2 linked regions of the Homo sapiens genome follow. The protein of the gene in region 2 purifies or fractionates together with the protein of the main gene of each other region. This does not show direct contact. Each region holds a gene or a part of one and is shown on either strand. Other genes may lie near its edges.

Region 1 (3,815 bases), on a different chromosome or scaffold from region 2:
AGCGCTGGTCTCAAACTCATGAGCTCAAGCAATCCTCCCACCTTGGCCTCCCAAAGTGCTGAGATTACAGGTGTGAGCCACCGCGCCCAGCCCTGCCATCACTTTTTTAGTTTTGACCCATCTAAGCACCATTAAATGGGGGAAATTAGGTGTGGGGTACATGGGAACTCTCTGTACCATTTTGGCAACTTTTCTGTAAATCTAAAAGTATTTCCCAATACAAAGTTTATTTAAAAAAAGTTCAAGTGGCCGGGCACGGTGGCTCATCCCTGTAATCCCAGCACTTTGGGAGGCCGAGGCAGGTGGATCACCTGAGGTCAGCAGTTCAAGACTAGCCTGACCAATGTGGCAAAACCCCATCTCTACTAAAAATACAAAGAATTAGCCGGGCATAGTGGCACACGCCTGTAATCCCAGCTACACAGGAGGTTGAGGCAGGAGAATCGCTTGAACCCGGGAGGCAGAGGTTGCAGTGAGCCAAGACTGTGCTACTGCACTCCAGCCTGGGTGACAGAGTGAGACTCTGTCTCAAAAAAAAAAAAAAAAAAGTTCAAGTGGAGGGAATCGAGGAACTGGCTGAGGGCCGGGGAAGGGGGCGGGGTGGGTAGGGACTGCTGGTACCTCTTGGTGTTTTTTAATCTGAGGACTCTGGCCTTGGGCCTCCCAGGCTGCCTCTGCAGCTTAAGCAGGGGTAGGGGATCAGGGCTCATTCTTGGACCTGCACCTTTGGGTCATCCCCGACACGTTGCCTGTGCCTTCAGAGCCAGGCTTGAGGGGTCATGTGGCCACCAGGCCCCGATGTGTAAGAAGGACAAAGGCAGGGGCTGACCTAGAGGAAACACTGGACCCTAGAGAAGGCCCATACCCCAGGAAGCTGCCCACTGAAGGCCTAGGAGAGTGGGGCCCAGACTGGGGACAGGGTTGGGGTGGGTGAGGCTCAGCTGCTTCCAGGAGAGTGGGCAGAGACAGAGCCAAGAGGTCCACCATCCCAAAGTCCTGAAGCCACTGGATTTTGGTGCCCCCCCTGCTGCCACCACTTGTGCTGCCCACTGCGGGCTCCTGACCCTGCCCAGCCCGGCCGCACCCCCACCTGGCTGCTGTTGGAGAAGGCGTACAGGGCCAGGGGCTTCTCCCGCCGGTTGATGAACTCGATGGCCTCGTCCAAGCTCTGCACGTTCACGATGGGCAGGATGGGCCCGAAGATCTCCTCCTGCATCACAGGCTCCATCTCCTGCACATCCACCAGCACCGTGGGGGCTGCAGGCACCAGAGACAGCTCAGCCCTGGGGCCACAGTCAGGACCGCCCCCAGGGTGGGGGTAGAGGTGGGGACAGGGCCACAGGCCAGGGCTCTAGGCCAGGATCCCAAGGTCTGACTTCCCAAGGCTTCAGGCTTTGGAGTGTTTAGGGAAGAAAGTCTCCCCACAGCCCCCCAGAAGGGACTCTAGAGCTTCCCCAGCCTGCTCAGGGCCTGTGGGACACAGAGAATCCCCCGACCTTGGTCTCACAGTCAGGGGTGATGGGATCTTAGAACCCTTGGAGTTCATGAGGCAACAGCGTCCCAGAATGTTGGCGCCGCAGTGTCCCATGAGCTGCTGAGCCGTACGGCCCAGGAGACTGGGGGCTCAGGACGGGACTCTCGGAGTTTAGAACCTGGGGATTGTGGGCTCGGAGAATCTGAGGTTACAGCCTTTCAGGATAGCCAGTGGTGGGATGGGAGTTCATCTTAGCACGCTGAGCCCTGGAGCCCTGGGATCTGAGCTCAGCGAATCCAAGGTGAGGGACCAGAGTTTGGCCTCATAGGGCCACAGACTTAGAAGCACAGAGACGGAATCATGGCACTGGAGCTGTGGCTCAAGGCCGGGCTCTGGCAGTGGGGCCAGGTTTCAGGCGCGGGTCCAGAGTTGTGGCCCAGCCTTGGGCCCTCCAGTGAGGAGGGGTCTTGGCCCAGGTGGGCTGTGGTAGGGGCAGCAGGACTCACCGATGTAGCGATCGCTCTCATCGCTCTGGCCCCCAATGGCCACACGGCCGCAGCCCAGCAATGCCCGCAGCCGCTGGAACTGTTTCTGGTTGATGATGCGGCCCAGGTTTGGGGAGCTCTGGGGGTCGTCGCCATAGAAACGGGTGATGGTGCTCTGCAGGGCAGGCAGCAGCCTCTCCTGCATCTCAGGGCTGCATAGGACGTAGTCGGGGGCCACGCAGGTCTGGCCGGCGTTGAAGTAGCGGAACCAGGCCACGCGGTTGGCCACGGTCTGGGGGTCGCAGTTGTCGTCCACGTAGCAAGGGTTCTTGCCCCCCAGCTCCAGGGTGACAGGTGTCAGGTGCTTGGCGGCAGCAGTCATAACAATCTTGCCCACACGAGGGCTCCCTGGGCATGGAAGGAAACCAGAGTGGCCGTTCAGTGACCTGGACCAGGCGGGATGGCCCAGCCCACGGCCCCGCTCCTCCCTGGAGAGGTGGTGGAGTCAGCGGGCAGCAGCCCTCGCCTGGCCTTTCCTTGTTCCTCACTGCCACCCTGCAGCCCAGGGCCCTGCTCATCCTTCATCAGGACCAGCCCCTAAGCACAGAGTCTCAGGAGGGAATGGTGCACGGCTGCTATCGGCCCCCAGGGTCCCCCTGCTGAGCCAAACCCCTTGGCTCCTCCCGCCTCTGCTTGTGACCCTGGCTGACCCTGCAGGGGACTCTTTGCAAAATGCTGCATGGAACCCCTCCCCACCCATCTCCTTTGGAAACTTCGGGGATCCCTTATCACCCAAGGATGGAGTCCAGCTCTGTCTACGGCATTCAGGTCTCTCTTCTCTAAACCTAAACCTGGAAGTTCTGCCACCTGCCCAGCCCTTTTTTTCTGACCCTTGAGGTGGACTGTCCCAGGCTGATGCAGGCGTCCCCATGTCCTGCCTGGCTTGGCCTCACCTCTCCTCTGTGCTGGCCTCCAGGGGCCCAGCAGTCTCCGCATGCACACAGCCTTCTCTGCCCTAGCCCTGTCTGGGCCTCAAGGCCTCCTCTCCAGACCTGACTCGGGGACCACGCTGCTGCGTCTGTGGGGATGGCCCTGGCATTTCTCCCCCTTGTGGTCAAGGATTAAAGCCGGCAGGAGCCACTGTGCCTTCTCTACTCTCACCCCTGCCCCATCCTGGCACAGTGCTTCCTGGGCTCTGTGGTTCCTTCCAGGGCTCCTTTGCCTTTGCTGGGAGGCGGCCAGGTCAATCCTGCCAGGCCCTTCCCCACGACTGCCTCGACCTGTAAGGCGCAGACTCGCCTGCCAGCACCACTGTCTTCCTCTCGCTCCCTCTGCCCCTCCCTAGCTCAAAAACTCGAAGCCGGGTGTGGTGGCTCATGCCTGTGATCCCTGCACTTTAGGAGACCAAGGCAGGAGGACTGGTTGAGGCCAAGAGTTCGAGACCAGCCTGAGCAACAGAGTGAGACCCTGTCTTTACTAAAAATACAAAAAATTAGCCGGGCGTGGTGGTACATGCCTGTCACCCCAGCTACTTGGGAAGCTGAGGCATGAGCATCACTTGAACCCAGGAGGCGCAGAGGTTGCAGTGAGCCAAGATTGTGCCAAGATTGTGCCACTGCCTGGGTGACAGAGCAAGACTCTGTCTCAAAAAAAAAGAAAAAAAAAGTGACCTCTGGCGTGGATTTCTCCAAGGGCTTGTGTGCACATTCCAGCCTGTCCCCATCCTGGCCAGCAGGGTGACCCTGGGCAGGACACTGAGGCCCAGTCCCTCATCTGCCTGCAGAGAGGGCTGTGGGCACCAGTAGGGTGGTGTCTAAGAGCCTGGGGGGCAGCAGGGTCACGTATGAGGGTCTGGG
Region 2 (3,815 bases):
GAAACAACAGAATGAAAACACAACCTACAGAATGGGAGAAAATATTCATAAAATATTTATCCAATAGGGAATTAATATCCAGAATATACAAGAGACTCAAACATTCCAACAGCAAAAACAAAAAACAAAAAAACAAAAAACAAAAAAACCCTCCAATCTAATAAAAAAGTGGACAAATTGTTCTGAATAGAAATTTCTCAAAAGACATACAAGTGACCAACAAATATACGAAAACATGCTCCTTATTAGTAATTATCAGGTAAATGCAAATCAAAAACTGCAATGAGGTATAATCTCATCTCAGTTAGAATGGCTATTATAAAAAAGTCAAAAATAACAAATGCTGGTGAGAATGCGGAGAAAAGAAAACTCATACACTGTCATGCGAATGTAAACTAGTACAGTCACTATATAGAACAGTTTGGAAGGTCCTCTAAAAACTACAAAAAGAACTACCATATATCTAGCAATCCCATGACTTGGTATTTATCCAAATTAAAGGAAATCAGCTTATTGAAGATACATCTGCACCTGCATGCTTACTGCAGGATTATCCACAATAGTCAAGATATGGAATCAACCTAGGTGTCCAACAACAGATGACTAGATAAAGAAAAGGTGGTATGTATACACAATGGAATACATTCAGCCATAAATAAGAATGAAATCCTTTCATTTATGGCGACCTTGATGGAACTGAAGAACATTATATTAAGCAAAATAAGACAGGAATGGAAAGTTAAATGTCACATATTCTTATTCACATGTGGAAGCTGAAAATAATTGACCTCATAGAAGTAAAAGAATGCTCGAGGCTGCTAGTAGGATACAGAGGATATTAGAAGCTGGGAAAGGTAGGAGGGAGACAGGAATAGGGAGAAATTTATTAAAGGAAATAAAATTACAGCTAGATAGGTGTAATAATTTCTAGTGTCCTATACCACTTAAAGATTACTTATTAATGTAATACATAGTTTCAAATAACTAGGAGCTTATTGAACATTCCCAATGCAAAGAAATGATCAATGTTTAAGATGATTGATATACTAATTACCCTGATCTGATCACCATATATCATATGGATCAAAATATCACTATGTACTCCATAAATATGTACGAACATTATTTGTCAATATAAAAAAACATAAAAGAAGTCTAATATGAGCCAGCAATAACTGTAACAAACAAATGGGATCTCAAGCTGCATCAATAGAAGTATAACAGTTGGCAAGAAGGAGACAAAAATCCCATTTTTCTCAGCCCTGGATCATTCCTGCCTTGAGGAAGAAGAGTGTCAGTTTGGGTGTTATGGCCCAGGATGTGAAAAATTAGAATTTCTGTCTAGACGGCAGTGACCAGGAAGGTGAAATGTCTGAAAAATGCTTTATATGAGACTATTTAGAGAAACTGGGGTGTTTAGGTTGTTTAAAATGTACAGTCTCTTTTATTTGTGTTGTCAAATTTCCCAAGAGCTGCTGCCTTGGAAAAAGAATATCAGATCACTTTCCTTTTGGACATGGGGGACCGTGAACACAGATTTCAAGTTGGTATAAGAAGAAACCCTCTAATAGTCAGTAATTGTGTGGAAATGAGATGGCCTCTTTTCCGAGTAGTGAGAAAGCTGTCAAAGGAGGTAATCAAGAGACACTGGAAAGATGTTGGACTGCATAGCCTCTGAGGCTCCTCACAACTCCAATTCTGGGAGTACTGACACTCTTTTATTCTCTCATCACTACTGAAGAATCAGAGAAGACAAACTTGATAACCCAACAGAAATCTAAAGCCATAAATCCAAAGTGGCTTATCCCAGAAAACACTGCCTGTAGTCCCCAACTGCCCAGCTTCTGCACCTCTTCCCATCTTTTCAAAATGCCCCCTGGAAAATGGGCTGTGACATGGAGGACTCACCTTTCTTCTCAAAGTCCACCTTCTCTTCCCCTGGATGTCCCAGACTGTCCAGAGTGTGGGTCACCTGGCTGCCAAACTCGTCCTCGCGGGAGACATGGTTGGCCCGCCTAGGTGGCTCCTCATCCTCCTCACAGTCATAGTCATCCAGGATGGGAGTCTCCCGGATGGGCACGCCAATGACGGAATTGTGGGTTTGCAGCCGGGATGAACGGAAGCTCTCCCGCGCCTGGGGACCCAGCAGCACAGATGGGATGTAGTGGATCTCATGAGTGGCTTCTGTGCTTGCGCTCTTCTGGGGGATGCGGCGACGCTTCTGCCAACGTCGCTGGGCGTACAGCGCCACGGTGAACACCAGCAGCAGCAGCAGCAGCGCGATGAGGCCACCCTGGAGCAGGAAGGAAGGACACACAAATGGGCCACTGTTCTTTGGAATCGAGGGCTGCAGGGGATTTTCCTGTCCACTACACTCTGCCAGGATCCCTGGGTTTGGCTCATAGAGCCTCAGGAACCACCAGCCGTGGTTTTTAAGCTAGAGAGACATTGTTTCAAACCTGGCTTTTTCACCAACAAACTATGTGACCCTAGGCAAACTTCTTCACTTCTCTGAGCCTTGCTTTCCATAGTTATAAAGGTTGAGTAGGAATCCCTGCTCTTCCTTCTTCACAAGGTTGCCATAGGAAGCAAATCAGATGGATAACGGTCATGTCAGAGCAATACAGATAGCTCAGTGGCAGGAAGGGTCAGTGCTGCGGCTTCACACAGGTGAATGTCTGAATCTAGACTCCATCTCCCACCAGCTGAGCATCCCAAGGACAGTTGCCTACGCTCCCCCAGCCTTGCTTCCTCATCTCTAGAATGAGTTAACTGAAAGATCATGAGACAGTAGTAGGCTGTCTTACATCTTGCTGCAAATATAAGATAGCATTATTAAATCAAACATAATGTCTGCATAGTCTGTATTTTCTTCATTTTTCAGAAACACCAGTCTTTAAATTTCTGAATTTCTATAAGGGAACTGGGACAAAGTAGGTCCTTAACAAATATTTGGTAAATGAGTGAATGAAAATGTACCTTTCTAGGGCTCCTTTAATAAGAATTTCAAGGTCAACTGATATATATATATATAATGTGTATATATATACATTTTTTTCTTTGATACACTCAGCTCCTAAATATTTGAGTCTGCATTATCCTACATTAATTTGAAATAAGCTAATGTGTTAATGCACATATCTTACATGATTCATGAAATACTCTGGTCTGTAAGATCCTTCAGGGCAGAGGTATTTTCAAAACACGTCTGTAATCCCCATAACACCTGTCATGAGCTTGAAGTTGAGGGTTTGCATTCTCCAGGCCTCCCCTCAATTGTTCTGTGCCAGAAACCTCTCCTCTGATGGGTAGGCCCTCATCACTTCTCTTGCTTTTCTTCACTTTATACTCTGCTTCATGTTTGGGAGATTGGAAGACACTTTGCTGAATGCCTGCTGTGTAATCCCTAGAGTCAGGAGGAATCACCCTTGTTGTATACAGGGTAGAGAGAGGCTTCAAAAAATCAAGAGACCCAGAAACTCAGAGAGCAAGTGGCAGAGTAATATCTGAGCCTTACTTTTTGTGTGTTTATTTTGTTTGTTTTTGCTTTTTAACTCTAGAGCCTATATTCTTTCAATCCACCTGTGTGGTTGATGGCTTCTCCTTGGCTATGATCTCATTGAAGGCAAGGACAAATTCTGACAACTATCTGTACAGCATCTAACAAAGATGACAGATGTTAGCTGTGAATACATTATCTTAGGGGCAAAGGTGGCTGCTGTTAAACACACCTGTTTAGACCAAGAAGAACACTGTTTGCTGAAATGGGTCAGCCATCCTGCTGACTGTATTTGATATTAGAAAACTGGCATGTT

Evidence for each region.
Region 1: the proteins of ASTN2 (region 2) and ALDH3B1 purify together in Homo sapiens (affinity purification with mass spectrometry; one large-scale study listed by BioGRID and IntAct). This does not show direct contact.

What each region holds. Positions count from the first base shown.
Region 1 is NC_000011.10:68,020,037-68,023,851, reverse strand, and holds part of ALDH3B1 (aldehyde dehydrogenase family 3 member B1), read right to left. Parts: intron 2,368-3,815; coding exon 1,981-2,367; intron 1,258-1,980; coding exon 1,091-1,257; intron 1-1,090. UniProt on the Homo sapiens protein: Oxidizes medium and long chain saturated and unsaturated fatty aldehydes generated in the plasma membrane into non-toxic fatty acids. May have a protective role against the cytotoxicity induced by lipid peroxidation.
Region 2 is NC_000009.12:117,212,450-117,216,264, forward strand, and holds part of ASTN2 (astrotactin-2 isoform g precursor), read right to left. Parts: intron 2,294-3,815; coding exon 1,909-2,293; intron 1-1,908. UniProt on the Homo sapiens protein: Mediates recycling of the neuronal cell adhesion molecule ASTN1 to the anterior pole of the cell membrane in migrating neurons. Promotes ASTN1 internalization and intracellular transport of endocytosed ASTN1.